Linked DNA regions of Homo sapiens: all the other regions are linked to region 2. The links come from fine-mapping of genetic effects on gene expression. A gene starts in region 2. Each other region holds a variant in brackets. All regions are shown on one strand. Distances are between the middles of the regions.

What was found. PIP is the estimated chance that this variant, and not a neighbour inherited with it, causes the effect.
Region 1: its variant is the best candidate, but not a certain one, in a credible set for the expression of PADI4 in blood mononuclear cells (TOPMed, PIP 0.81).
Region 3: its variant is the best candidate, but not a certain one, in a credible set for the expression of PADI4 in monocytes (TOPMed, PIP 0.79).
Region 4: its variant is the best candidate, but not a certain one, in a credible set for the expression of PADI4 in monocytes (CEDAR, PIP 0.73).
Region 5: its variant is the best candidate, but not a certain one, in a credible set for the expression of PADI4 in whole blood (INTERVAL, PIP 0.59).

Annotation. Positions count from the first base shown.
Region 1 is chr1:17,278,639-17,283,739 of GRCh38, reverse strand. PADI3 (peptidyl arginine deiminase 3) reads right to left here. Exons shown (of 16, transcript NM_016233.2): 14 at 3,311-3,390; 15 at 2,944-3,069; 16 at 1-894. The coding sequence ends at 661. Among named protein-coding and RNA genes, the nearest start is that of MIR3972, 3.3 kb to the right of the region's middle. The variant A/G (reference allele first, on the strand shown) is at 3,167.
Region 2 is chr1:17,305,078-17,310,178 of GRCh38, reverse strand. It overlaps PADI4 (peptidyl arginine deiminase 4), which reads right to left and starts at 1,982. Exons shown (of 16, transcript NM_012387.3): 1 at 1,865-1,982. The coding sequence starts at 1,956. RefSeq lists an enhancer at 4,800-5,101.
Region 3 is chr1:17,345,044-17,350,144 of GRCh38, reverse strand. PADI4 (peptidyl arginine deiminase 4) reads right to left here. Exons shown (of 16, transcript NM_012387.3): 9 at 4,006-4,117; 10 at 2,097-2,204. Among named protein-coding and RNA genes, the nearest start is that of PADI6, 25 kb to the left of the region's middle. The variant G/T (reference allele first, on the strand shown) is at 2,103.
Region 4 is chr1:17,254,732-17,259,832 of GRCh38, reverse strand. PADI3 (peptidyl arginine deiminase 3) reads right to left here. Exons shown (of 16, transcript NM_016233.2): 2 at 75-255. Among named protein-coding and RNA genes, the nearest start is that of PADI3, 8.2 kb to the right of the region's middle. RefSeq lists enhancers at 1-297, 298-799. The variant TTG/G (reference allele first, on the strand shown) is at 2,800.
Region 5 is chr1:17,338,947-17,344,047 of GRCh38, reverse strand. PADI4 (peptidyl arginine deiminase 4) reads right to left here. Exons shown (of 16, transcript NM_012387.3): 6 at 4,235-4,360; 7 at 1,927-2,105; 8 at 1,646-1,749. Among named protein-coding and RNA genes, the nearest start is that of PADI6, 31 kb to the left of the region's middle. The variant C/T (reference allele first, on the strand shown) is at 2,034.

The DNA.
Region 1 (5,101 bases), 26 kb after region 2:
GGAGTTTATAAGGCTAAGGGACAACTCTCATTGCTTCCACATGCATCTAGAAGCTCCTACTATGTGACAGCTCACGCTGGGTGAGGGTCAACATCTGGGCAGGAGCTTGGCCGGGTGAAAGATGGTTCCGCCCTGATCTAAGTGGATCCACAGCTCCCTTTTTATGGGGGAGGCTTTAGGAAGAATCTCTCCTGCCTGTCCTGCGTGGAGTGGTCTGGTTTTAGGGTTGTTCCTCTGCAGAGAGGAAGCAATTGGACCAAAGCAGAATCATGGATCCTTCCTCTGTTAGGATGCACAGGACAAGATGGCTGATGAGATACGTGGATGTTTCTAGACCCCAATGTGGATTTGTCCCCAAATGGATGATTTCAGAGTGAGAAGGGGACATCTCCATGGGTTGTGTTGAATCACAGGAGAGGCTATAAGAAATGAGGTCCTTCTTTTTGGGGGGCCGAGAAGATTCAAGTCTGAGAACCACATGGGTTGCAGGTGAGGCATGGACACTTCCAGGGAAAAGGCTTCTGAGAGGGACGGTCACCCTCAGTGTTCCATCTGGAGCCTTGGGGTCTCTTGGTGCTTATCGTTCAGGGGCCTGTCTCTGTCTCCACCACCTGGGCCAATGCCCGCCCCAGGGGGACAGGATGGTGGGTGGGAGCTGTCTCAGGGCACCATGTTCCACCACTTGAAAGAGAAGGGCTTTCTGCACACATTGGTGCCACAGTGCACCTCCCCATGCAGCATGTGGTATGGAGTGAAGTCATCAATGAAGGTGCAGTGGAGGCCCAGCGGCTCCAGCAGGGACCGCACCTTCTCCTCCAGGCAGCAGCAGCCATTGATGATGGGCCCAAAGGGCTTGGGGATGCCCAGGTGCTTCCCCAGCACCAGCATGTTCACCTGCAGTCCAAAGGGGAAGCAGCACTTCATCACTGGGCTCCCACCCCACACCTCTACTCTACCTGCAGGACCTAGGTTTGTGTTTTAGACAGCCTTGTCAATAGCTACTCACCCTTTCCTGTGCAATGAGAAGGTAACTGGCTAAAGGGGCTGGGAAGAACCGGTTAGCCAGGTGCCTTTGGGAGCATCCGCAGAACTCACTCTGGCAACGTGCTCTGGAAACTGCCCTAATGTGAATTTGGAATTGTGGATTGTGGCAGCTGCCATGTTTGTGCTGCAGAATCCCAACCTTCTAGGCCATAACTGATTGGGCCAGGGAGAACAGCTGGTCCAAGATGGACCAATCAGAGTCCCTCTCCCAGGAATTTGAAACTGACAATGGGAGCGTCTAGTTGGTCTCTGCCCGTGTCAGTGTCTCTGTGCATGGCCATACTCATCTTTGTCCCCAGGAACAGAGAAGCAAAGGAAGCCAAGCTGGAAGAAGAGGGAGAAGAAGTAGGAGGTGGAGAGGGTGAGAGAAAGAGAGAGAATGAATGATGTAGACACAGAAACAGAGAGGGTTCCAGGCTCTGCTGCAGCTATCCTGCCCTCAGGTTTCTGGTGTCCTTATATTAAGACTCCCTCTGGCTGAAGCTGGCTTCAGTAGGACTCTGTCTCTTGCGAACACAAGAACCTGAATCATTGCACAAACTTCTTGGGGCACATATATAATTACAAGATAGCCTCGAACAGGAAGGAAGGGGAGTGAAAAGAGGCTTTGCAAGCGGAGGGCAAAATGTTGCCTGAAAAGAGGAAGGAAAAAGCGGGGCATGAAGCAATGGTGGTGTGGACAGGTTCCCCACAAGGCTCTGACAATGGGCAAATTGAGTTCTTTTAGGGGATGAGGTGGGGAGGAGTGGAGAGGGGAGCTGGGTGACCTATAGCAGTGCTACTCAAACTGTGTTCCTCTAAAAGGCAGCATCAGCACCACCTGGGTGTTTGTTAGCGCGGCAGCAGTGCCTCGGGCCGTGCTTTAGACCTGCTGAATCAGGACCGCTGGGGTGGGGCCCCACCTGTCCAGGTGTTTCAAAGGCAAGCTCAAGATTTAGAAGCAGGCCAAGCACGGTGGCTTCCGCCTGTAATCCCAGCACTTTGGGAGGCCGAGGCTGGTGGATCACCGGAGGTCAGGAGCTCAAGACCAGCCTGGCCAACATGGCAAAACTCCATCTCTACTAAAAATACAGAAATTAGCCGGGCGTGGTGGTGCACGCCTGCAATCCCACAATCCCAGCTACTCAGGAGGCTGAGGCAGGAGAATCGCTTGAACCCTGGAGGCTGAGGTTGCAGTGAGTGAGATTGTGCCACTGCCCTCCAGCCTGGGCAACAGAGTGAGACTCCGTCTCAAAAAAAAAAAAAGAAAAAAAGAAAAAAAGATTTACAAGCATCAGAGGCAAAGCCCTCAAGGCTCAGTCAAAAGCCACTTCTTCCATGAAGACTTCCTGGATCTCCAGTTCTACCTCTTAGGCTGGAAGTGCTTTGTCTCACCTCCAAACTGCCACATCGCCTTATCCTACAAAATAGATCACTGGGACATGTCCTCAGAGAAGGGAAGAGTTTCCCTCTCAACCGATTAGACTGAAAGTCCCTTGAGAGCAGGGGGCATTCTTAATCATCTCTGCATCTGCCACAGGACACCCTAAATACATGTGGGATGGATGAAGAGCCACAAGCTGGGAGGAAGAGAGCAGAATGAGCATCTGGGTTCCCAGCTGATGCCATGTGCTTTGCACACGTGACCTCATGCAATCATTCATTCACTCCACAAATGTCAAGTGGACCCCTTCCCTGATGCCCCTTGGGCCAGGGCTTGGCCAGCAAGCATTCCACAGGGACCATGGTGGTCAGCCAGCTAGAAGCCCTTCTGAGGAGCACCATAGGACCCCTGATTCTCCCTGCCACCCCCACTGGCCACCACAATCCTAAATATGACTGTGACCAGACATTTTTCCTCTCTCGAGCTTAGAGGTTTGCAGCCTGATTTGGCAAAGGAGTCATGGGTAGTGCCCTCACCAAGTCAGGGAAGAAGGCCGTTGCTTTTTTCCTCTCGGTCTTGAAGAGCTGTGGGATGTCAATGATGTCACACTCTGCCAGGCCCAGCTCCCGCTTCAGCACCTCACGGTTCCAGTCGATGCAGCTCTGGGGGCAGGGGAGGGCCAGAGTTGGGGACACCTTGCCAGTGTGTTTTGGGGGCACCAAGGCATCCTGTCGCTCCCCTCACTTCTTCTGGGTCAAA[A/G]GAGGGTGTTGGGACCCCTCTGTCTGGGCCTGTTCTAACCTGAGCTTTCATGAACAGTTAGCCTCAGATGTCTGTATCCCATCCTTGCCTCCAGCCCCGCCTACTCCCAAATCACAGCCCACAGGTACACCACAGCCCTTGTACCTGCACAAACTTATTGTAGTTGATGAGGTCTTTATTGGAGAGCACCTGGTTGATGGAGATGGTCTTGACCTGCTCATCATCTGTGAAGGAGAGAGATGAAAGAGAAGGACAGGGACAGCACCAACGTGAGGACCACCTGCTTAGGGAAGCAGACAGGCAGGAGCCAAGTTCACAGCTAATGGTCTTGCCGAGTCAGCAGCCTCTGACTTTCCCAGGCCTTGGGTGGGTTCCACCTGTCTGAGCTTGCCTTGGCCACTGTGCACATCTTGGGGTATAAGGAGTGGGAGGGTCTGGTTGCCACAGTGGAATGAACTGAGACCTTTATTTGAGTTCACTGGAAGTGGTAACGCCTGTCACTGGAAATGTACAACTGCCCGAGGGCACTGGATGAGGAATCCTCTTGCTTTGGCTTAGCGGGGAGCTGGGTCAGTTGCTGCCCACCCACCCACCATCAGTCAGGTTTTATAGGTTCACTGAGCAGCGAACCAGCCAGTCCTGGGATTCAGACACCATCCAGCCCCAATCCTGCCCTTCAGGGGGTGACTGCGTGAAATGGGGACCTCCCAGGGGTCCAGATTTTCTCAGCCTGATGGTGTGCCCATGCAGATGAGACTGGACAGGGAAGCGGAGGCTAGAGTCAATGGCACACAATCCTCATGGCTGCTACTTAGTAAGCGCTTACCATGAGCAGGCCCCGAGGGGAGTGCCCAGGTTCAGCATCTCATTTAACCCTCACGGTGACCCCCACAAGGTATGCATTATGATCCCCACTTTACAGATGAGAAAACTGAGGCTCAGAGAGGTCAGAAGACTTGCCAAAGGTCACACAGGTAGGATATGTGGGGGCTTGTGATTCAAACCCAAGCCCAGGGCTCGCACAGGGCCTCAAGCCTTGACCAAGGGAAAGGAGAGGGCTCCCCTGACCCATCTGCAGGTCTAACGCCCGCTTCACCCCAGTTTAAGGCAGGAAGCTGGGGTCCAGTCCCAGCTCCACTGCAATCTTGCTGAGGCCTCTGGGCCAGTGACATCCCCTCTCTGAGCCTCACATTCTTGGGAATAAAGGTGGGTGAGAGTCATCCCATTTGATCTCTCGTGAGATCAAATGAGATAACACGTGTGATGCACACAGCGTGAGGCCTGGCGCACTGAGGTGTCTAATCAGTGCTCTGGCCTCTGTGTCTGGCCTCTGTGTCTATGTAATTAATCGCCACAGTCACTGCCTGAGTGTCAGCCCTCGAGGGTGGGGTGGCTGCTTGTGGCCTGCCATCTGTGAATTCTCCCACGCTCCCTCCCAGCTGGGCAGGTTGGAATAACTCTGCTCAACCCATTCCTGGGTCTTGCTCACCATAAGTTCTCCCAGGAAAGATGAAGGTGGCATTTCTCCCTGCCTGGTACATAATTTGGATTTAAGGATTTCTAAGACTTACTCTAGGTTCACCGGAGTCTAGTTAGGGTGCGTTTGGGAGCAACAGGGTCAAGAAAGACTATTTCTCTTCCATTTTATTGCTAAGGCTCCAGGGTTGTGTTGGAAGAAGTTAACGCTAGCAAACAGAGAGCAAGGGGACTTTGGAAATTATTATACTTGGGGGCGTCTAAGTTCTACAGGAGCTTTTTTTCTCTCTGAGCTGTGTTTGGTCTAGGATGCTATCTGCCTTCCCTGAGGCCATGGGACCAAGAAAATCTATGATCCTGCGTGTCAAAGGGTCTTTGCCCTGGGACCTCTGGGGTCACTGAGAAAGGGAGGATCCTCTGGGATTCATGCAGTCTCAGTGGGGCTGGAAAGGGAGTGAA
Region 2 (5,101 bases):
ATGAGTTGAATGTAGGAAGTGTGATGTAAATATTAGCCATTGTTACGTGAGATGTTCAGGGGATAGAGTGACAGGCTCAACGTGTGGCTGAAGGAGGAGAAAAGAAGGATTTAGAGGCCCCTGTGAACTCCGGAGTCCCCATCCTTTCTGGGAGAAATGGGCAGTGCCTTCCTCTCTGCCCAACACTGACCAGCTGTCCACCCACCTCTCTAGGGCCAGAGGAAGCACTTGTGATCTTGATTACTACTCATGGACGCTGGGTAGAGGGCTAGCCTGGGCATGCTGGGAGAGGCCCTGGGCTAGCTTCAGCTCCTGTCATTTCCTTCACACCCATTCTCAGAGGAGTTGGGGGCGCCTCAGATGATGTCAGGTGATTTTCTTTTTCCTTTTCTCCCCAACTTCTTGGTCTCCTGCCTCCACCATGTGGCCCTGGGAGACCATCCCGACATTTCCTGCTGTTCTCTGGCTGCTGGGGCTCAGGCAGTAGCAAAGAAATGTCCCCGGCACTCCTGTGGGCACCATTCTAGGGCCACCGATGCCCAGACTGGGATGGGGAAGCCAGGGGCAACCACTCCTATTCCTGACAACAGCAATTGTTGCAGGATAATTTAGGAATCAGAGAGACCGAGGGGTTGAGGAGGATTTATTATTTAGATTCACTGGCTCAGTCAGGCTAACATTTCAAAAGACTGAGCCCTGAACAAAGAGTTAAGTTATCTTTTAAGCATTTCATGGGGCGGGGGTAGATCTGTGCAGGGGGAAGCATATTATAGAGGCAAGAAACAAAGACAGTTATTTAATTGAGACATGCATTATATTATTTTTTACTTTTTAAGGAAAAAAATTTTTACAGCTTGAGTTTATCTGTCTAGTGACCTTGCAGCTGCACAGCTGGAGAAACAGGGTCTTTACAATGCCTGGAAAAAGAGGAGCAATAAGGCTCACTAGCCACAAAAAAACAGGCAGTTAATTTTTAAGGGACTCCAGCTCTTTTTTTTTTTTTTTTCCAGGGAAAATTGTTTTTTTTTTTTTTAACATAGAACTGAGTTTTTGCTTACACGTTTTAAAATTTCTTTTAATTCCTGTTCTACAATAACAACAATGACCCTGCACACTCCCCGAGAGCATTCCTCAACTCTCTTGTTTAACCCAGACCCTGCCACAGAGCATGGCACTCAGCATTTGTTAAATGAGTAAATAAAAACTACCAAGGATGGGCCCACCACTGTGCTAAGTACTCAGCCAACATCTGCACATTTTTTCACATTGAATTCCTATAACCAGCCCATGATGTGAGTATTATCCCCATTTCACAGATGAGGCAACTGAGGCTCAGTTGCCCAAGGCCTCCTTGCTAGCCAGCAGCAGGTCCAGGCTTCCTACCTCAGTCTCTGCCGCCACAGAGCCCCGTTTCGCCATCCCCACCCACGCTATTATGCACCCACTGAGGGAGGCTTAGCTAAGAGATGTGGGGTAACAAACTGTGCTGTGAACCAGGAGGCCCAGGGGCTAACCTTACTTCCAGGGCACACGTGCTGTGTGACCTTGAGCAAGTCACAGACTCTCTGTAAGCTTCTGTTGCCTCGATGAAGACAGGGAGATGGATGGCCTGGTTTGCCCCATAATAATTTATCTGTCGTGTGTTCCTGGGGAATTTGCACTTGTACATGGCAAAGAACCCACAGCCATGAGACTGGCACTTCCCAGGGCTGCTGGGGTCTTCTCTCTCCAGCTACTCCCCTGGCAGTGGCTGCAGAGGCTGGAGCCTAGAGCCTGGGCCAAACACATGCTCCTGTGTCAGTAGAACTGGGTCATCCAGCATCTCCTGACCTGCCTCCAAAACCCCAGAAGGCCCCCCTCTTACCTGCAGATGTCAAGCTGAGTCAAGGTGCCCAGCACACACACGGCATGGGTGGGCTGCTCTGGGGTCACACGGATCAATGTCCCCTGGGCCATCGTCGGGCTAGCTCGTCCCTCTGGCTGTAGGAAGCCCCTGGGCTGGTTCCTTTATATCGCCCAGCAGAGGCCATGAGTCAGCACCTGCGGTCTGTGGCCCAGAGGCTCAACCCCTCCCCACTCAGGTCAGGGGTGTGGGCTCTCAAAATCTCCTCTGCCCTGGGGCTGCCCCTCGGACCTCTAGATGGGTGTCAATGCTGGTACCAGTGGCAGGGTGGCTCTGTCAGTTTCTTGGGAAGGATGGATGGCTCAGAAAGCCTGGGGTGGAGAGTGGGGCTGAGGGGTTGGGTCCTGGTCCTCATGCCCACAGTCCCATCCCTGCCTAGAGGCCCTGAACACCTTGATCTATCCAATCTCACCTATGTCAAACAGGCATATCAGAGAGGAGAAGGTGGGAAAAGCGGGGAGATTTTAGGTAAGCAGTCACAGGCCAGGCTACACGTTCAAAGACCAACCAGGCTTGGGACAAGTCTCTCCACCTGGGCCACCCACATGACAGCTCACATTCTCTATGCCAGGCACGTTTTCCTGCACTTCACATAGAATAGCTCATTACGACAAACCCGTGAACTAGATCATACCATTATCCCCTTATTTCACCCTCACAGCAGCCCTCTGAGGTTGGTGCCATTATTATACCCATTTTACAGAGGAGAAAACAGAGGTGCAGTTCTTCCACAGCTCGAGAGTGGTAGGGCCAGAATTGGAACCAAAGGTGTCCAGTTCCAGAGTGTGAGATTCATTAGCTGCCTGTCTATATGACACGTGCTTTCCAGACTGTATCACAGCTACATCTCGCTACAATACAAGGTGTATATGGGCTTATTATTACAACCCATTTTACAGAAGGAAAATTGAGGCTCAGAGAGTAAAAGTGACTAGCTCTTGCCCAAGGTGCCAGAGCTAGAATGCGGCAGAGCTGGGAAGAGAAGATGAGCTTCCTGGCATGGAAGTTGATGTTCTCTGCATGCTCCAGGATACCTGCCTCTTGCCAGGGCCTCTGGGTGTCAGACCAGACAGTGCAGGTGTGGGCCACGCCTGCCAGGGGGATGCCCATGTGGCCTCAGAGCTGTGGTTGCACCTGGGCCATTGGTGCCAGGCTCTGCCTTTAATGAGGCAACTGGGGGGTGGTGGATGGGTCCCAACAAGGAGCACTCAAAGGGTGCATGCATGGGAGTCTGGCGTGAACATAGAGCGTTTCGTGGGTTGGATATCTTGCGTTTGTTTTTTGTTTGCTTGCTTTGGCTTTGAAGCAAAGAATTTGCCTCATTAATTCAGAGTCAGGCTGTGGGATCAAACAGGCTTTAGTTCAAATCCTGCCTCATCTCAACATCCCTATGGAGTGCGTCCTATCAGGATGCCCATGTGTAGATGAGACCACAAAGACTTAGAGAGATTGAGTGAGACCCCCAAGGTCTCATAAGCCCTACAGTGGGGATCTGGATTCAGACCACCTTCTCTGGGCTCAAAATTTATCTTCTGTACCAGCAGATGATGATGTGGCCAGGTCCGACGTTCTGACGCATCTACATGACTGCCTGCACACAGTGTTAATAAACCCAATTTCTCTGGCTGACCGCATGATTAGAACTAGTTTGAGCTTCTACTGGGAAGTGGCAGGAGGGAGCTGTCCATTGTTAGAGTTGGGAGGGCCCTTAGAGAACACCCAATCCAGTCCTCGTTTTGCAGAAGGGGAGACTGAAGCACAGAAAGGGAGTGGGACCTGCCCACGGTCACACAGCAAATCAGAGGGAGGGCTGGCCTCTACCCCAAGTCTTAGGTCTCTTGAGGTTGTTTTCTTCTGTTCCTTCTTTTCTTTCTTATTTTCTTCAGCAGTTTGGGGTTTAAATTTGCTGTGAACGAGCCACAAAGAGGACGAGCCCCAAAGCAGTTTTGTTAATTCAACAAATACTGACTGAGTGCCTATTGATGGCCAGGCACTGTTCCAGGCACCGTGGATACGCTGTGAACAAAGTGGACAAAAATCCTGCCTTCATAGAGCCTTTTTGTTTGTTTGTTTTTGTTGGGAGAGAGACAGCCAGTAAGCAATAAATGCAGTAAGTGGATTCTATCGTATGTTAGTGGGGTAGAAAAAGGAAAAAGGACAGGGTAAAGGCTACCAGGAACACAGGGAGAAGGTTCCAAGTCAAGAGAACAGCCAGTGCAATCGGTACAAAGGCCCTGAGGCAGGGACATGCCTGGCGGGTTCAAGAAAGAGCAAAGAGGCCAGTGTGGCTGAAATGCAGTGAGGGAGGGGGAGAGCAGCCCAGGGCGGGGTGCGATCATATAGGGCCTTTCGGGCATCCTAAGAGCTTTGGCCTCTGCTCCAAGTAACGTGGGGAGCCTGGAGTCATTTTGAGCAGAGAAGGACCGCGAACCAACTTGCTTGAACGTGATCACTCTGGCTGTGATGTGAGAACAGACTGTAGGGGACCCGGGAGGAGGCCAGAAGACCTGTGAGGTGGCCGCTGCACACAGGCTGGTGACAGACGGTGGGGCTCAGGCTAGCGTGGTGGCAGTGGAGGAGGGGAGGATGGGTCAGGTTCTGGACATTTTGTGATGCAATACAGCCAATAGGAGTTGCAGAGGGACTGGATGAGGGGTGTTAAGAAAGACAGAGGGATGGAGGAGGACACCGCAGTTTGGAGCCTGAGGCCCTGGAGGGATGGGGCTGCCCGCAGCTGGGCAGGGAAGGCTGAGGGAAGGGCGGGGGGTGGGCATGGTGGAGATCAGGAGTTTGGTCCTGGCTTTGCCAAGTGTCATTTGGTGTGATGATGCCCTGTAGGACGTTTGAACACATGATTCCGGAGCTTAAGAGACAGGACCAGGCTGAAAAGGATAAAACAGTGAGATGTCAACATCTCCAGCTCCCCTAGGGAATGAGTGAGGATAGGGAAGAGAGAAGGCCGAGGGATGAGCCCTGGGGTCCTCCACCAGAGACCCAGGGGAGTGATGAGGGAGAGGAGATGCAAAAGAGAATGCATGCTATTTGCAATTACACAGGGAGCAATGCAAAACTAGGTTTGTAACACACACACACACACACACACACTCACTCACACTGAGGGAAAACGGCTGCACTTTGGAAGCAAAGCCTCTTTGTAGAAACACACTTGGTCACTCACAGTGGAACAAGGGCCACGGG
Region 3 (5,101 bases), 40 kb before region 2:
ATGAACGAGTCCATGATTTTAACAAAATACACTGAAGAAGTCAACAGGGGGCTGTAGTGGAGAAGGCTAGGAGTTGGGGTGGGAGTAGGGATCCCTCTTTTAGCATCAGGGAAGGCCTCACTGAGTAGGAAATAGAAGCTGAAACCTGAAGGCTGAGAAGCAGCCAGCCCCGTGAACAGGGAACAGCACTGCAAGCAGAGGGAACGGCATATGCAAAGACCGTGAGGTGGGGAAACGTTAGGCAAGTTTGAAGAACAGGAAGGAGGCCAGTGGAGGTGGGGCTGGGTAAGGGACAGCGAGAGTGGCCTACAATGGTGCTGGAGAGGCAGGTGGGGCCAAAGCCTGGTGCTGAGTGTGACTTTTTCTCCAATTCTCTTCATTCTGAGTGATTTGGGTGTTTTTTGTTGTTGTTTTTTCTTTTTCTTTCTTTTTTTTTTTTTTTGATACAGTCTTGCTCTGTCACCCAGGCTGGAGTGCAGTGGTGCAATCTCGGCTCACTGCAACCTCTGCCTCCTGGGTTCAAGGGATTCTCCTGCCTCAAACTCTTGAGAAGATAGGATTACAGGCACACACCACCATGCCCAGCTAATTTTTGTATTTTTAGTAGAGACGGGATTTCGCCATGCTGGCCAGGCTGGTCTCGAACTTCTGACCTCAGGTGATCCATCCTCCTTGGCCTCCCAAACTGCTGGGATTACAGGTGTCAGCCACCACACCTGGCCTCATTCTGAGTGATTTGAGTTGGAATACACAGATGTGCTTAGCTGAGGGACCAGTGCTGCCTGCCTTCATCCAAAGTTGTCTGTGGGAAAGGGGACAACAATGGTGCCGAGGTGTCCGTCTGTCTGTCCAGCAGGACTTGTGGCATCAGAAAATCTGGCCTTTGTTATACTTGGAGCATCAAAGTAGACACAGCCACTGAACCAGGCAGGACTGAAAGCAGCAGAAAGAGGGCAAAGTCACGGTAGCAGCTGGCTGGTTCGCCCCAACGCTGCTGAAACAGGATGAACTCGACCCCATGGCTGAGTACACACTGTGAATCCAACAGCATCTCTGCATCTCCACTGCTCAGCGCACAGCTTGGCCAGGAGGAAGCGAGACTCGGGACAAGTTGTTGAGTTTAACTGAAGTTTCATTCTGAAGCCTTCTGTGTGGGCAGGGCCACTCTCCCCTCCCTTGGGGCACAGTACAGATGCTTGTCGGAAAGCCATTTGTCCTAGCAAACCTTGGACCCCACACTCCTTCCGTCGTTTTCCCTGGGCACCTTGAGCCAAGGGGCTGCCAGGACTCAGAGCGCAGGCCTGGGGTCTTCCTGGGAAAGCAGGGAGAGGGAGGCAGGGCGGGGAAAAGCATGCTCACCAAGCCGGACTGGCCGGGTTTGAATTCCAACTTCTCCACTCTGAGCCTCAGTTTCTTCTTCTATAAAATGGGCCTATTGATAGAATCTCCATAACAGTTTATCAAATTAAATGAGTCAGTGCAGGTAAAGAATGCAGCACTGGCTAACACACAACTCATTCTCAATAAATGCAACTATTATTATTATTGTTCTGTGCTGAGTTTGCATCAACCTGCCAGGCTAGTCAAGCATGAGTCAGCAATACGTCACTTCCCACCTCCACATGGACAGCCTGTGGCTGATAAAGTCACACCCAGGAAATGACCACTGATCCACTGATCCCAAAATCCCCCATATCCCAGATGGAGCCCCTGAAGACCAAACACCACCCATAAGACAGAGCCTCCAGCTGGGCATTGGGAAAGATTCCAGCCCCGGCCCCACCTCCACCTTGCAGCAAGAGCTTCTTCAAGAGCACAGGGAGGTCCAAGCCTGAGCCACCTCCTCGGCAGGGTTACCTGGAGATCAAGCTGAGCTCACGGGTGACAAGGGTTTTGGGAAATGAAGAGCCAGATCTTATCTTGGTAATAAAAAAATAACAAGCCCCACCTACATGCTCCCACTTTGGTAGGAATTCCACCTCCTTGCACTGGGCTACTCAGCTACAGGCGCGGGCGGGGAAGGCAGGCTAAAAGGAGGGAGTCTCAAGACAAGAGGGTTTCGGCAGCTGTGCCCCCTCCCCACCCCATGCAGGTACCATCAC[G/T]CGTTTGATGGGAAACTCCTTCAGGCCTCTGTTCCTTGGAGAGTCGAAGACCACGGGCAGCGTTTTGTGTGGGGCTTGGATGTAGCCGATCTCCATTTCATCCTGTGGGAGTGAGTGGAGAGGAGGCTGTTGCGCGTGCTGCCTGGGTCTTGGTGCCCGACGCCAGGATGGGGGCATGAAACCATCCACTCACTCTCACCCTTGCAGTCAAGGGCACATTCCTATGGGATGTTTGATCTCAGAGAAGGGGCTCAGAAGCGGAGCTTATTGCCCCCTGTTTGCCCAGTGCACGAGAGGCCATGAGCCTGCAGGAGTGCCCTTCCCTCCTACTCCTGGTGGTGCCTGGGCCAGTGCTGGGGACCCCTGGTGAGCAAAACTGAGACCCCTCCTCAAGGTGAGAAAACAAGGGAGCCAGGCAGTGGGCACCAGGGTTAGGAGGTGATGGGGGGTGAGGGGTTGAGGGGTCTGTGGGGACACAGAGGAGGGGCTCCTGATGCAGCTAGGATGGGCCAGAGAAGACCTGTTGGCGCCAGAGCTCGCGGCCTCCTCCCCAAAGGAGGGCAGATAAGACCCAGCCTGGGCCACTGGAGCAGCAGGAGGAGCACGGGGAGGTTTCAGAAATGAATCTGCTGAAAATTCCGCCTCCGCAGGCTTGTATTCTAGCAGGCAGGTGTGATGTTGGACATAATCACTACTATAAGTTACTATTAGGATGAACCAGATGAAAGTTCCACTCTTGCAAATCAAAAATGGCACATATCAGCAATTTCACACAGGTCAACTTGGTATCAAAAAAATGGAATGGCGGCCAGGTGCAGTAACTCATGCCTGTAAGCCCAGCACTTTGGGAGGCTGAGGTGGGTGGATCACCTGAGGTCAGGAGTTCGAGACCAGCCTGACCAACACGGAGAAACCCCATCTCTACTAAAAATACAAAATTAGCCAGGCGTGGTGGCACATGCCTGTAATTACAGCTACTCAGGAGGCTGAGGCAGGAGAATCATTTGAACCCGGGAGGCAGAGGTTGTGATGAGCCGAGATCGAGCCATTGCACTCCAGCCTGGGCAACAAGAGTGAAAAAAAAAAGAAAAGAAAAGATGGAATGGCAAGAAAGGAAGAAAGGATGTTGTGTGGGGGTGAAAAGAAAGAGGGATGAATTCCTGCTGGGGGTGATGGGGGAAATTTATGGACGAGGAGCATTTGTGCTGGGATTCACCGGTATGGATTGGAGATGGGGGATGGGAATGGGGAGATGGGTCCAAGAGACAGCACCGCAGGGGTGCGGCATGGAAGGACAGGGTCCCGAGGCAAAGCAAGGCAGTGGTGGGGAGGGTCAGGGTGCTAGGCTGGATGAGGCCCAGTCTCAGTCCTTGGGGCACTCCTGGCATGATGGGGGAGTGGCACGGAAACAGAGACTGGTAATCATGTGTTTCCAGGCACAGTGGCAGGCTGGCCCCAGGGAAGGGAACCAGGCAGGCTGAGAGGGCCTGGAAACAGACTAAGCAGGAGGAGATGGGAGCCATGGAAAGTGCTGGAGCTGGGGTGTGACCTGCTTTGGTGGCTGGGCCCAAGATGGACAGCCTGGAGGGAGGACCACTTGAGGGGCTGGTTGAGCACCAATCTCCTGAGCTTCACATCATTTCCTGAGGCCACCTGAGTGTTTTCAAGCAGGAAGGTGGCTTCATCTTGGTGACTGCAGTGGGCCTGCAGTGGCCCACAGCAAACGTCAGATGAATCACTTGCTTGAGCCTCCCGGCCCAAGGATCTCTCAGGTTCCTATCTCCCTGTCCATCTAAGGAAGAGTGGCCGGTGAGGCACCAGGCTGAACCCCAGGAGCCCGGGTCCCCCAAGTGTCTCTTGGCCCTCAGGGACAGTCACCCTGCCTGCCCCGCAGGGCACATACCTGCATCCACTGGTCATCCATGTTCTCCTCCTCAGGGCAGATGGTCAGCTTGCACTTGGCTTTCATGGCCAGAGTAGTCACTGACTTCAGGAAGTCCTCATTTTCAAAAATACTAGAGAGAGCAGAAAAGCAGCTCCTTAGTGCTCTGGAATTTGAAGCTCAGCCTGGAAGGATTGGGAGGGACACACAGGTGGCTCAGGGGTCACCTGTGGCCTGAACAGAGGCTCCTGGCACGTCCGGTCCATCTGCTCTTAGCAGGCATTAGCTCATGGAATCCATCTAACAAGTTATGAGGCAGGAACTAGTGGGTACCCCTTCCACCCGTGTATTAGTCCGTTTTCACGCTGCTGATAAAGACATACTTGAGACTGGGAAGAAAAAGAGGTTTAATTGGACTTACAGTTCCACATGGCTGGGGAGGCCATGGTGGGAGGCAAAAGGCACTTCTTACATGGCGGTGGCAAGAGAAAATGAGGAAGAAGAAAAAGGAGAAAAACCTGATAAAACCATCAGATCTCATGAGACTTATTCACTATCATGAGAACAGTATGGGAGAAACTGCCACCATGATTCAAATTATCTCCCACTGGGTCCCTCCCACAACACTTGGGAATTATGGGAGTACATGTCAAGATGAGATTTGGGTGGGGACACAGAACCAAAGCATATCATCCTGCCCCTGGCCCCTCCAAATCCTATATCCTCACATTTCAAAACCAATCATGCCTTCCCAACAGTCCCCCAAAGTCTTAACTCATTTCAGCATTAACCCAAAAGTTCACAATCCAAAATCTCATCTGAGACAGGGCAAGTCCCTTCCTCCTATGAGCCTGTAAAATCAAAAGCAAGCTAGTTACTTCCTAGATACAATGGGGGTACAGGTGTTGGGTAAATACAACCATTCCAAATGGGAGAAATTGGCCAAAACAAGGGGGTTACAGGGCCCATGCAAGTCCAAAATCCAGCAGGGCAGTCAAATTTTAAAGCTCCAAAATGATCTTTGACTCCAGGTCTCACATCCAGGTCATGCTGACACAAGAGGTGGGTTCCCATGGTCTTAGGCAGCTCTGCCCCTGTGGCTTTGCAGGGTATAGCC
Region 4 (5,101 bases), 50 kb after region 2:
AATGTTGGGCCCTCCTAGAGCTAGACAGCTGCCTCCCTCGAAACCTCTCCCCACCCCACCAGGGACCAGCTCACATGGCTGTCGTTGAGGTCATTGCTGGGGGAGTTCATGACCACGATGATCTCCAAAGTCGCGTCAAAGCGCCACCGCCTGGTGTCTGCACGCTCCCGGCCCCTCTCCATGTTGGGAGAGATGTAGATGTCCACGCCAGGCGTCCCATAGACCTCAAACATTTCTGTGCCCTCAGGCACTGACCTGGGCAGGGCAGAGAGCCATGGTCGGTGCCGAAGGAGATATATTTTGCTCAGATGTTTGAGCTTTGGCTCAAGCCCTGCTTCCTCCAGGAAGCTTTCCTTGGCCACCCAGTCCCCTCAGATCCTCACAGTAAGCTCCTGCGAGTCAAGCCTGGACCCCACACAAACATATACACAGTCGGCCGGGCGTGGTGACTCACTCCTTTAATCCCAGCACTTTGGGAAGCCGAGGCGGATGGATCACTTGAGGTCAGGCACTTTGGGAAGCCGAGGCGGGCGGATCACTTGAGGTCGAGCCTGGCCAACATGGTGAAACCCTGTCTCTACTAAAAATACAAGAAAATAGCCAGGCGTGGTAGCATATGCCTGTAATCCCAGCTACTGGGGAGGCTGAGGCAGGAGAATCGCTTGAACCCAGGAGGCAGAGGTTGCAGTGAGCCAAGATTGCACCACTGCACTCCAGCCTGGGCGACAGAGCAAGACCCTGTTTCAAAACAAAACAAAAAAACATACACACAGTCTGATGTTCTAAGCCCCTGTGTTCATTAACATTTCCCTTGTGAGTTTCTTTACCACTCACCAGAATGGCGAGCTCTTCGGAAGTCAGAAGCCAGCCATGTGCTCGATAAATCCCCAGTGCAGGTCTGGGCACGAAGAGCTCAGTGAACACCAGCCATTGGTGGGTGGAGCCCCTTACAGTTCTGAGAGCTTTAAAAAGAGCAATTCTCACCCCAGATCCCATCACATGTCTCCTTAGTGGGTGGGAAGATATCCTTGAATTCTTCCCTGGGAAGGGAATTCAATCTGGTTGAGTGCCCGCTGCATGCCAGGCACCTGGCGCACGCAGCTCCCTCCACTCTTACAAGCTGTAAGGTGAGCAATATCATCCCCATTTGGCATATTAGCAACTGAGGCTCAAGGAGGCCTCGTGACAAGCCTGAGGTTGCATCACATGGCAGAGCCAGATGTGCAACAGGTCTGACTCCAAGCCCATGCTGTTCCACAGCTCTGCAGTGTCACCCGGGAAACTTGGCCGGATTTGGTCAAACAACCAGAAATTAATTGCAGGTTTAAAGTATCTGTGATGTTATCTGGCCCTGAGATTGCATTTCCCTCATTCCACCTAGCCTGGGGTTCCTCCTTGGAAACCAGACTATGCATCCTTTGACTGTGGGGTGCCCACTGTGCACTCAGGTACTGCCTGGCGGGCAGATCCACCCACTGCTCTCCCCACTGTTGATCCCGCTGGGGAGCTGAGGACCAACATTGTCCAGGGCAGCCAGATGGGGCTCAAGGCCACAGGATCACAGCTCAGTGGGAACCCATGTAGGGAGAGGCCACTGCGAGTTGGAGGGCCTCCTGGAGGCAGCGGCATGCATGCCCCTGGGGGATAACAGTGACTGACACTTACTGAGCTCATGCTGTGTGCCAGCCCATCATGCAATCCTCTCAATAACCCTAGAAGGGAGGCACTATCTATTATTGTCTCCCATTATACAGATGAGAAAGCCGAGGTTAAGTAACTTGCCCAAGGTCTGTGGCCGGGCTGGGATCCAAACCCAGCCATGTGGCTCCTCAGTCCACACTCTTGCCCACCACCTCCCCAGGAGTAATAATAACAACAATACCATAACATAAAAAGCCCCCAGCCTCTGCACTCTTATCACGGCAGGCCTGCCTAAGCCTTTTTGTACATTAGCTCATCTGATCCTCACTGCAGCCCCAGGATGAGATAATTACTCCTGTTTACACATGGGGAAACTGAGGCACAGGATACGTAGGGGACTACCCCAAATTTCCACAGCTGGCCACTCCCCCCGCTTCCCATCTTCCCTCAGAGTAAGGCAGACCTCCCCCAAAACAACCTCTTCACTCTTCCACCAACATGATTCTCTTACATCTCAAAGCAGCTTTTTTATGAAAAGGGAAATAAACCAAGCCCAAGCTTCTCTCCATCAGGCAGGTCCCACTCTGGTGTCTGGGCCCCTGTCAGGTGTCCTCACCAGTTGGGAGGGACAGACACACCTGTTTCTCCTCCTAAGCAGGGCTGCCAGACTTAGCAAATAAAAATACAGAAAGCTCAGTTGGACTTGAATTTCAAGTGAACAGTCAATCATTGTTTGGTACTCCCGTGAAGTATTTGGGATACACTTATACTAAAAAAATTATTAATTATTTACCTGAAATTCAATTTTAACTAGGCATCTTTTATTTTATCTGGCAACCCTACTCCCAAAGCCTGTAATTTCCAGGGCTGGTGGAGCCCTCTGGCCTGTTTGGCCCTGGGCAGCCCCCCACAGGGGAAATGGCAGAACCAGGGAGAGAGGCATGAAGACACAGAGACAGAGAGATAGGGACAGAGAGACTTGGAGAGACCCAGCGAGATGGAGAGTCAGAGACAGGGAGTCGGAAAGAGACACAGGAAGACAAACCCAGGTAGGAAGAGCAGCCTCTCATACCCTCGGGAACACCCTCAGCCACGCTCCTGAGGCACTCGCCTTCCATCTCCCAAGGAAGCCTTTTTTTTTTTTTTTTTTTTTTTTTT[TTG/G]AGACAGAGTCTTGCTCTGTCGCCCAGGCTGGAGTGCAGTGGTGCAATCTTGGCTCACTGCAACCTCCACCTCCCGGGTTCAAGCAATTCTCATGCCTCAGCCTCCCAAGCAGCTGGGACAACACAGCCCACCACCGTGTCCGGCTAATTTTTGTATTTTCAGTAGAAACAGGGTTTCACCATATTGGCCAGACTGGTCTTGAACTCCTGACCTCAAGTGATCCGCCTGCCTCAGCCTCCCAGCTGGGATTACAGGCGCGAGCCACCGCGCCTGGCTGAAGCCTGTACACTTTTTATGGAACTCCCTCAACCCCAAAGCTGTTCCTTGGGCCTCCAGTGTCCATGGGCAAGGGCTGAGCGCCCTTGATGGTCCTTCTGGTATGAAAACCCCACTCAGTCCCCAGGCTCCAGCCCCTGGGTGTAGGGTGTTTCAGCCCAGCGCCCCTGCCTCTCCATGTGCCAGGCTCTGTGTGAGATGCTGGGGGATCCCCAGTGAAGACTGAAGCACCCCTGCCCAGGAGGGTCCCCAGGACCACGGTCTGAACAAGGGCTTAGCACAGGTGAACAAGCTACATCTGAGGTTGGGGAAGGGAGGGGCTGCAAGCCGAGGGCTCAGGTGGTGCTGGGACCAGAGTCAAGAATTAGGTTTTAGACCAGGCTGGGTCACACATCGGCCAGCTGAGCTTGACTAAATCACTTAGTCTCTCTGGGCCCATTAACCTCACCTTAAAGTGGGATAATGACACCTACTTGGCCAACCTCATGGGCAATCATGAAACTCAAGTGTGATAATAGACAGGAAAGGCTTGCAACACCATTGGCCCAGGACAGGGAAGGAGTTATTAAAGTAAATGAGGGTGCAGGAAACGGGTCTGGAGGCAGGATGAGACAGTGGGCTGGGTGGCTGGGGCAGGTTCCCCAGGGAAGGCACCAAGAGGAGACACAAGTGAGGGGAAGGTGTTTTCACCGTGGAACCTTAAGAGGTCTAGTTTAGACTCAGGCTATAATGAGCTTGTTTTCATTTCATCCCTATGTAATGGGGAGCCAGCGCTGGTTCTTGATCAGGAGGGGCAACATGATGGAGCCGTGGCAAGGTACTTGAGCCTGTGGTCCCTGGGGCCAGACAACTGGGTTCAAATCCCAGTCCCACCACTCATTAGGTGTGTGACTTTGAGCGAGTGACTGCCTCCCTCAGCCGCAGCATCGACATCTATCTGGTGGGGATGAGGAGAAGATGAAAGGAACCAGTGTGGGTAAAGCACTCAGGATGAGCAAAAGTCATGCCCTCATTTCACTGATGGGGAAACTGAGGCCCAGAAGATAAGTGACTAGAAGGTAGGGCTGCTGACTTCCAGTCCAGTGCTCATGCCTGTCATGAAAGCTGTGTGTTAGGAGAATGAGAGGGGCAGCTGCTGGGAGGAGAACCTGCATCAGGTACGGGAGGATCTAGCTTCCCATTTCCTAGAGAACAGGGGAAGTACCTGGAGCCTCACCTGGACAAAGTCCTTCCTCTCCAGGCCACCTCGAGCTGCCAGCATGGCTGAGCTGTCACATGCTGGCTTCTGGGCTTTCTAGGCAGTGCTTCTGGTCCAGTCCTGGGCTCAGGGCCTTGGACCCTCGCCGCTGAGGCTTCCATGCACAGGCCTGTCCAGGGCTCTCCCAGCCCCACACCCCCCAAGCCAGCCGGAGAACTCAACTGCTCCTCTGGCACAGCCAGCCTAAGATGGTGAGTTGGGGGTAAAATGTGGTAGGGTGGCCAACAGCATCAGTTTGCTGGGACTAAGGCTGTTCCTGGATACAGAATTTGCTGTGCTAAAACCTGCAAGGTCCCAGACAAACAGGAACAGTTGGCCTCCCTAAAAGTAGCCAACCTCAGACCCACCTTATTGAAAATGCAGATTCTTAGAAGTGCTCCAGGTGGGGCCTTGGAACCGCATTTTAAGCCATTCTGATATTTGCTGACATCTGAGAATCACGGCTTAGAGTAGGTTGTCTTAGAAATGCTGGAGCCTGGTGGGCCAGGCGCAGTGGCTCACGCCTATAATCCCAGCACTTTGGGAGGCCGAGGAGGGTGGATCACCTGAGGTCAGGAGTTCGAGACCAGCCTGACCAACATGGAGAAACCACGTCTCCACTAAAAATACAAAACTAGCCGGGCGTGGTGGCATATGCCTGTAATCCCGGCTACTAGGGAGGCTGAGGCAGGGAATTGCTTGAACCTGGGAGGCGGAGGTTGCAGTGAGCCAAGATAGCCCCATTGCACTCCAGCCTGGGCAACAAGAGCAAAACTCCATCTCAAA
Region 5 (5,101 bases), 34 kb before region 2:
CAAGTCTCTAGAAAGTTCCAAACTTTCCCACATTTTCCTGTCTTCCTCTGAGCCCTCCAAACCGTTCCAACCTCTGTCTGTTACCCAGTTCCAAAGTTGCTTCCACATTTTGGGTATCTTTTCAGCAACGCCCCCCTCTACTGGTATCAATTTACTGTATTAGTCCATTTTCACGCTGCTGATAAAAACATACCTGAGACTAGGAAGGAAAAGAGGTTTAATTGGACTTACACTCCCACATGGCTGGGGACACCATGGTGGGAGGCAAAAGGCACTTCTTACATGGCGGCGGCAAGAGAAAATGAGCAAGATGCAAAAGTGGAAACCCCTGATAAAACCATCAGATCTCATGAGACTTATTCACTACCATGAGAATGGTATGGGGCAAACCACCTCCATGATTCAAATTATCTCCCACCAGGTCCCTCCCAGAACACGTGGGAATTGTGGGAGTACAATTCAAGATAAGATTTGGGTGGAGACACAGAGCCAAACCATATCAACTTGGGAGAAGACAGAATATGAGTTCACTGTTCAAGGTCACACCACCTGGAACAGTGCTGGGACCGGAATACAGTCCTCACTGGATTCCAGCCTGCGTCCTGACCACATTACCCTCTTACTCTTCTGCCCCTGAAGCTATCAGAAGAGGGGAGGAGAGGGTCTCCTGAGACCCCAGCACACTTGTCAGCGGCTCTCAGACTGCAGGAAGATTGCCTGGGCCTCCCCAAAATGCAGATGGGCCCCGTCCTCAGGGATAAGACCCAGCAGCTCACAGGCAGCCAGAAAGGTGCATTTTATTTAATTTAAATTTAATTTAATTTAATTTAATTTTTAATTTTTATTATTTTTAATTTTCTCAAGACGGAGTCTTGCTCTGTCGCCCAGGCTAGAGTGCAATGGTGCAATCTCGGCTCACTGCAACCTTGGCCTCCTGGGTTCAAGTGATTCTCCTGCCTCAGCCTCCCGAGTAGCTGGGATTACAGGCACATGCCACAACACCTGGCTAATTTTTTGTATTTTTAGTAGAGACGGGGTTTCACCATGTTGGCCAGGCTGGTTATTTTATTTTTGAGATGGAGTCTCACTGTGTTGCCCAGGCTGGAGCGCAGTGGCGCAATCTCAGCTCACTGCAACCTCCGCCTCCAGGGTTCAAGCAATTCTCGTGCCTCGGCCTCCTGAGTAGCTGGATTACAGGCATGCGCCACCACGCCCGGCCAATTTTTGTATTTTTTAGTAGAGACAGGGTTTCACCATGTTGGCTGGGCTGATCTCAAACTTCTGACCTTAAGTGATCCACCTGCCTCAGCCTCCCAAAGTGCTAGGATTACAGGCGTGAGCCACCGTGCCCAGCCCAGAAAGGTGCATTTTAAATGAGTTCCCAGGAGTTTCTGGTGCACAAGGTCCATGGGACACACTCTACAGGCCCCTGGGAGTTAACGTAGCCTCAGCTGCATCAGGGCAGGACAGAGGCAATGACAACAACAGTAGGGAACTTCCCTGCCTTTTTAGAGCCCCCAACAAGCAGCAAGCTCTCAGTGGGCAGGGGAGGGGTGACTGTTTTTCCCATCACACAGTGAGTGCTGCGGATGGAACTCAGGCTCTTTGTTGTCTGGACCCACCCCAGCACCCCAGGACCTCTCACCTGCACGCGTACACCTCCTGCGGGGGCTGGGTGTTGGGGGTCATGATCCAGGGCGCCACGCGGAAGACCACGCTGTCTTGGAACACCACAGCCTCGGGGAGCTCCTGCAGGGGAGGGGGTAAGGGGAAGGAGGGGCTGTCACCGCTGCCAGGGCCCAGCACCTACCACTTCCTGCAGCTGTTTGGAGTCCCCCTGCCCAGCTGGGCTCTGTACCCCTTTCCCTAGCCAGGCCACTGCCTGGAAGCCCAGGCCCCCGATGCAGGGCTGCCTTCTCGGCCTACCAGGTTGGACGTGTCCAGCAGGGAGATGGTGAGGGTAATGAGCCCCGGGAAGTCGGTGTCCGGGAAAGCGAGGGCCTCCACGTAGAAGTCCATGTTGTGCTTTCCAC[C/T]GGGGACCATCAGGTAGTGAGAGGGCCACTTGGGACCCAAGACTACGCTGCACTTGGAGGACAGTTTGCCCCCTAGGAGAGAGGCAGGGGAGACTCAGGTCTGCGTCCCCACTTCTGAAGACTTTTCCTCCTCTCCTTAGTGCTCCCCAGAAGCCTTTCCCAGGGTCACCACATGGCACCATCAGAGAACCCCTTGCAGCCAAATCTGGCCAGTCCCCTTAGGAGAAAAGGACTGAAGTTCTAGCTGGGACGCTGCTCCCCGGCTGAAGTCCCAGAAGGGTGTGGCAGGGGTGCCTGAGCTATTCCAAACTTTATAGGAAGTCCAGTATACACCATTCCTTCACTCATTCCTGAGCATCTGCTCTAGCCAGATGTCAGCGGGGGACAGGGGCACAGCAGGGGACCAGGGAGACAGAGTCACTGTCCTCCTATCCTCACCCCCAGAGAGTGCACAGTCTTACGGGTGAGTAGGGAGAAGCAGAGATCATGAAAATAGCAGACAGCTGTGATAGAGGGAATCCCTGAGAACTTCCTGGAGGAGGTGATGCCTGGGTGGAGGCAATAAGTTGACCTGTCACCAAATCAGTGTCAGTTTAATCACTTTAAGAATGAAACAGGCCGGGTGTGGTGGCTTACGCCTGTAATCCCAGCACTTTGGGAGGCCGAGGCAGGAGGATCACAAGGTCAGGAGATCCAGACCAGCCTGGCCAACATGGTGAAAGCCCATCTCTACTAAAAACACAAAAAAATTAGCCAGGCATTGTGGTGGATGCCTATAATCACAGCTACTCGGGAGGCTGAGGCAGGAGAATTGCTTGAACCCAGGAGGTGGAGGTTGCAGTGAGTTGAGATTGCGCCACTGCACTCCAGCCTGGCGACAGAGAGAGACTCCATCTCAAAAAAAAAAAAAAAAGAAACAGAGGCTGGGCATGGTGTCTGTAATCCTAGTGCTTGGGGAGGCTGAGGCAAGTGGATCATTTGAGGTCAGGAGTTCGAGACCTGTCTGGCCAACCTGGTGAAATCCCATCTCTACTAAAAATACAAAAATTAGCTGGATGTGGTGGCACATGCTTGTAACCTCAGCTACTGGGGAGGCTGAGACAGGAGAATCTCTGGAACCCAGGAGGTGGAGGCTGCAGTGAGCCAAGATGGCACCACTGCACTCCAGCCGGGGCAACAGAGTGAGACTCTCTCAAAAAAAAAAATTAAAAAAAAAAAAAAAAAGCTTGGAATAGACCAGGCAGAATGATCAGGATCAGAATGATTGTCAGGCCCATGCAAAAAAAAAACCCTCCCATGGCGCTCTCCATCTCCTTCCATCCAGAAGCCAAAGTCAATATACGCCTACCTGACCTCCCCCTTCCCCTCTGCCCTGTCTCTTCCACCCTCATCCCCCACTTTAACCCTTGCACATTCCGCCCCAGCTGCACTAGCCTCCCTGCATTCCTCCAAACCACAGGCATGATCTCACCTCAGGGCCCACGCACTTGCCGTTCCCTCTGCCTGGAACGCCCTTCCCCTAGGTGTCTGTCTGGCTGTTCCTATACCTCCCTCTGCTCACATGGCACCTCATGGGGGACACCTTCCCTGGCCACCCTCTCTCCACACAACCCGAACTCCACTCCTCACTCCACATCCCCTTCCCTGCCGCATTCTTCTACATAGCATGTCACAGCGTTGGACACACTAGGTGTTTTATGTAATTATTTTACCTATAGTTCTCCCAGCCACTAAGATGAAAGCAACACGAGGGCAGGGACTCGGTCACAGTCATGGCTCTGTGCCCCGTGCCTGGGATCAACCTGGCACCTACTTAGTTGCAGGTGCTCGTGGGTCACTGAGAAGTTCCTGATGTCTCTGATTAGCAGGATGTTGCAGAACAAATGATTACATGCCACATGCTGTCAGCTTGCACTCAAAGTCTATAACCAGGAGGTGTGTGTGTGTGTGTGTGTGTGTGTGCGCGCGCGTGTGTGAGAGAGAGAGAAAGAAAAGCAGGGAGCAATAACGAGTCATTTTGTCTGTGTCCTCCAACTGGAAGGTAGTAGACGAGATGTCGTCTGTCTTGCCCACTGCTGCGTCTGCTGTTCTTAGAACTTGGCACATAGTAGGTGCTCAGGATTTATCTGCCACACAGCTGTGTGACAGGATTGTGCCCCGTTGGCCAGGGCAGGAGGGGAACAAAGATGGGGATGACTTACGTGTGGCCTGAAACACCCTCACTTTGTCCATCTCAGACCTGGCCACGTGGAGCACCAGTGTATGGTTTGTGAAGAAGTCCTTGGGGGTCTTCGTGCTCAGGGTCATCAGCGACATGTCCTGCAGGTCTGGGATGAGAAGGGCATTGCCTGAGTCACAGGGCCCTGAGACCGCTGCTGGTTTCCCATAGCCACCTCACCTCCTGGTGGAGCCTCACACCCCACCGCTCCCCTGAGACCTCCCTTTACCATGTTGCCTGGTTTTCTTTTCTTTATGCTATTTTGAGTATTTAAATGATGGTTTTCATTTTGGAATGAGAGCTCATTAAGGTTTTGGTCTCCTCCCACTAGGATGAGCTGGGGATGTAACCTCAGCAAAGCGGGGACCACATTTATTAATATTTTGCTCCTTGCAACGTTCCCTGAATCTTGAACCTAGAAAGCCGAGAACTCCCTAGAACAATGACCAGCAGGCGGCAGGCGCTCGGCTGAGATTTGTGCAATGAACGAGTGAAAGGTTTCTGTGCTGGTCCTGAGCAAGAAGTGGGGTTTGTGAACCAACTTGAACAATAGCCAAGAAGGGGTAGAGGGTGGGGAGAGTGAAGAGATGGTTCCCAAGGGACTGACTGATAGCCAAGGGCTTAAAGGCTTTGCGGTCAATTTGGTTTGAATCTGGGATCTGGGTGGGCTTAGGAAACGGATTTCAGCTTTCTCTGCCTCTGTTTCCTCATCACTAAGACAGGGGCAAGAGTTGTACCCACCGTAGAATGGTTGTGAAGATAAAGTCAGGTGATACACAGTGCTTATACCAGCTCTTGGCACCCCGGGAGTGCCCACAAAGGACAGCTGTTGTGATTATTACCGCATGTC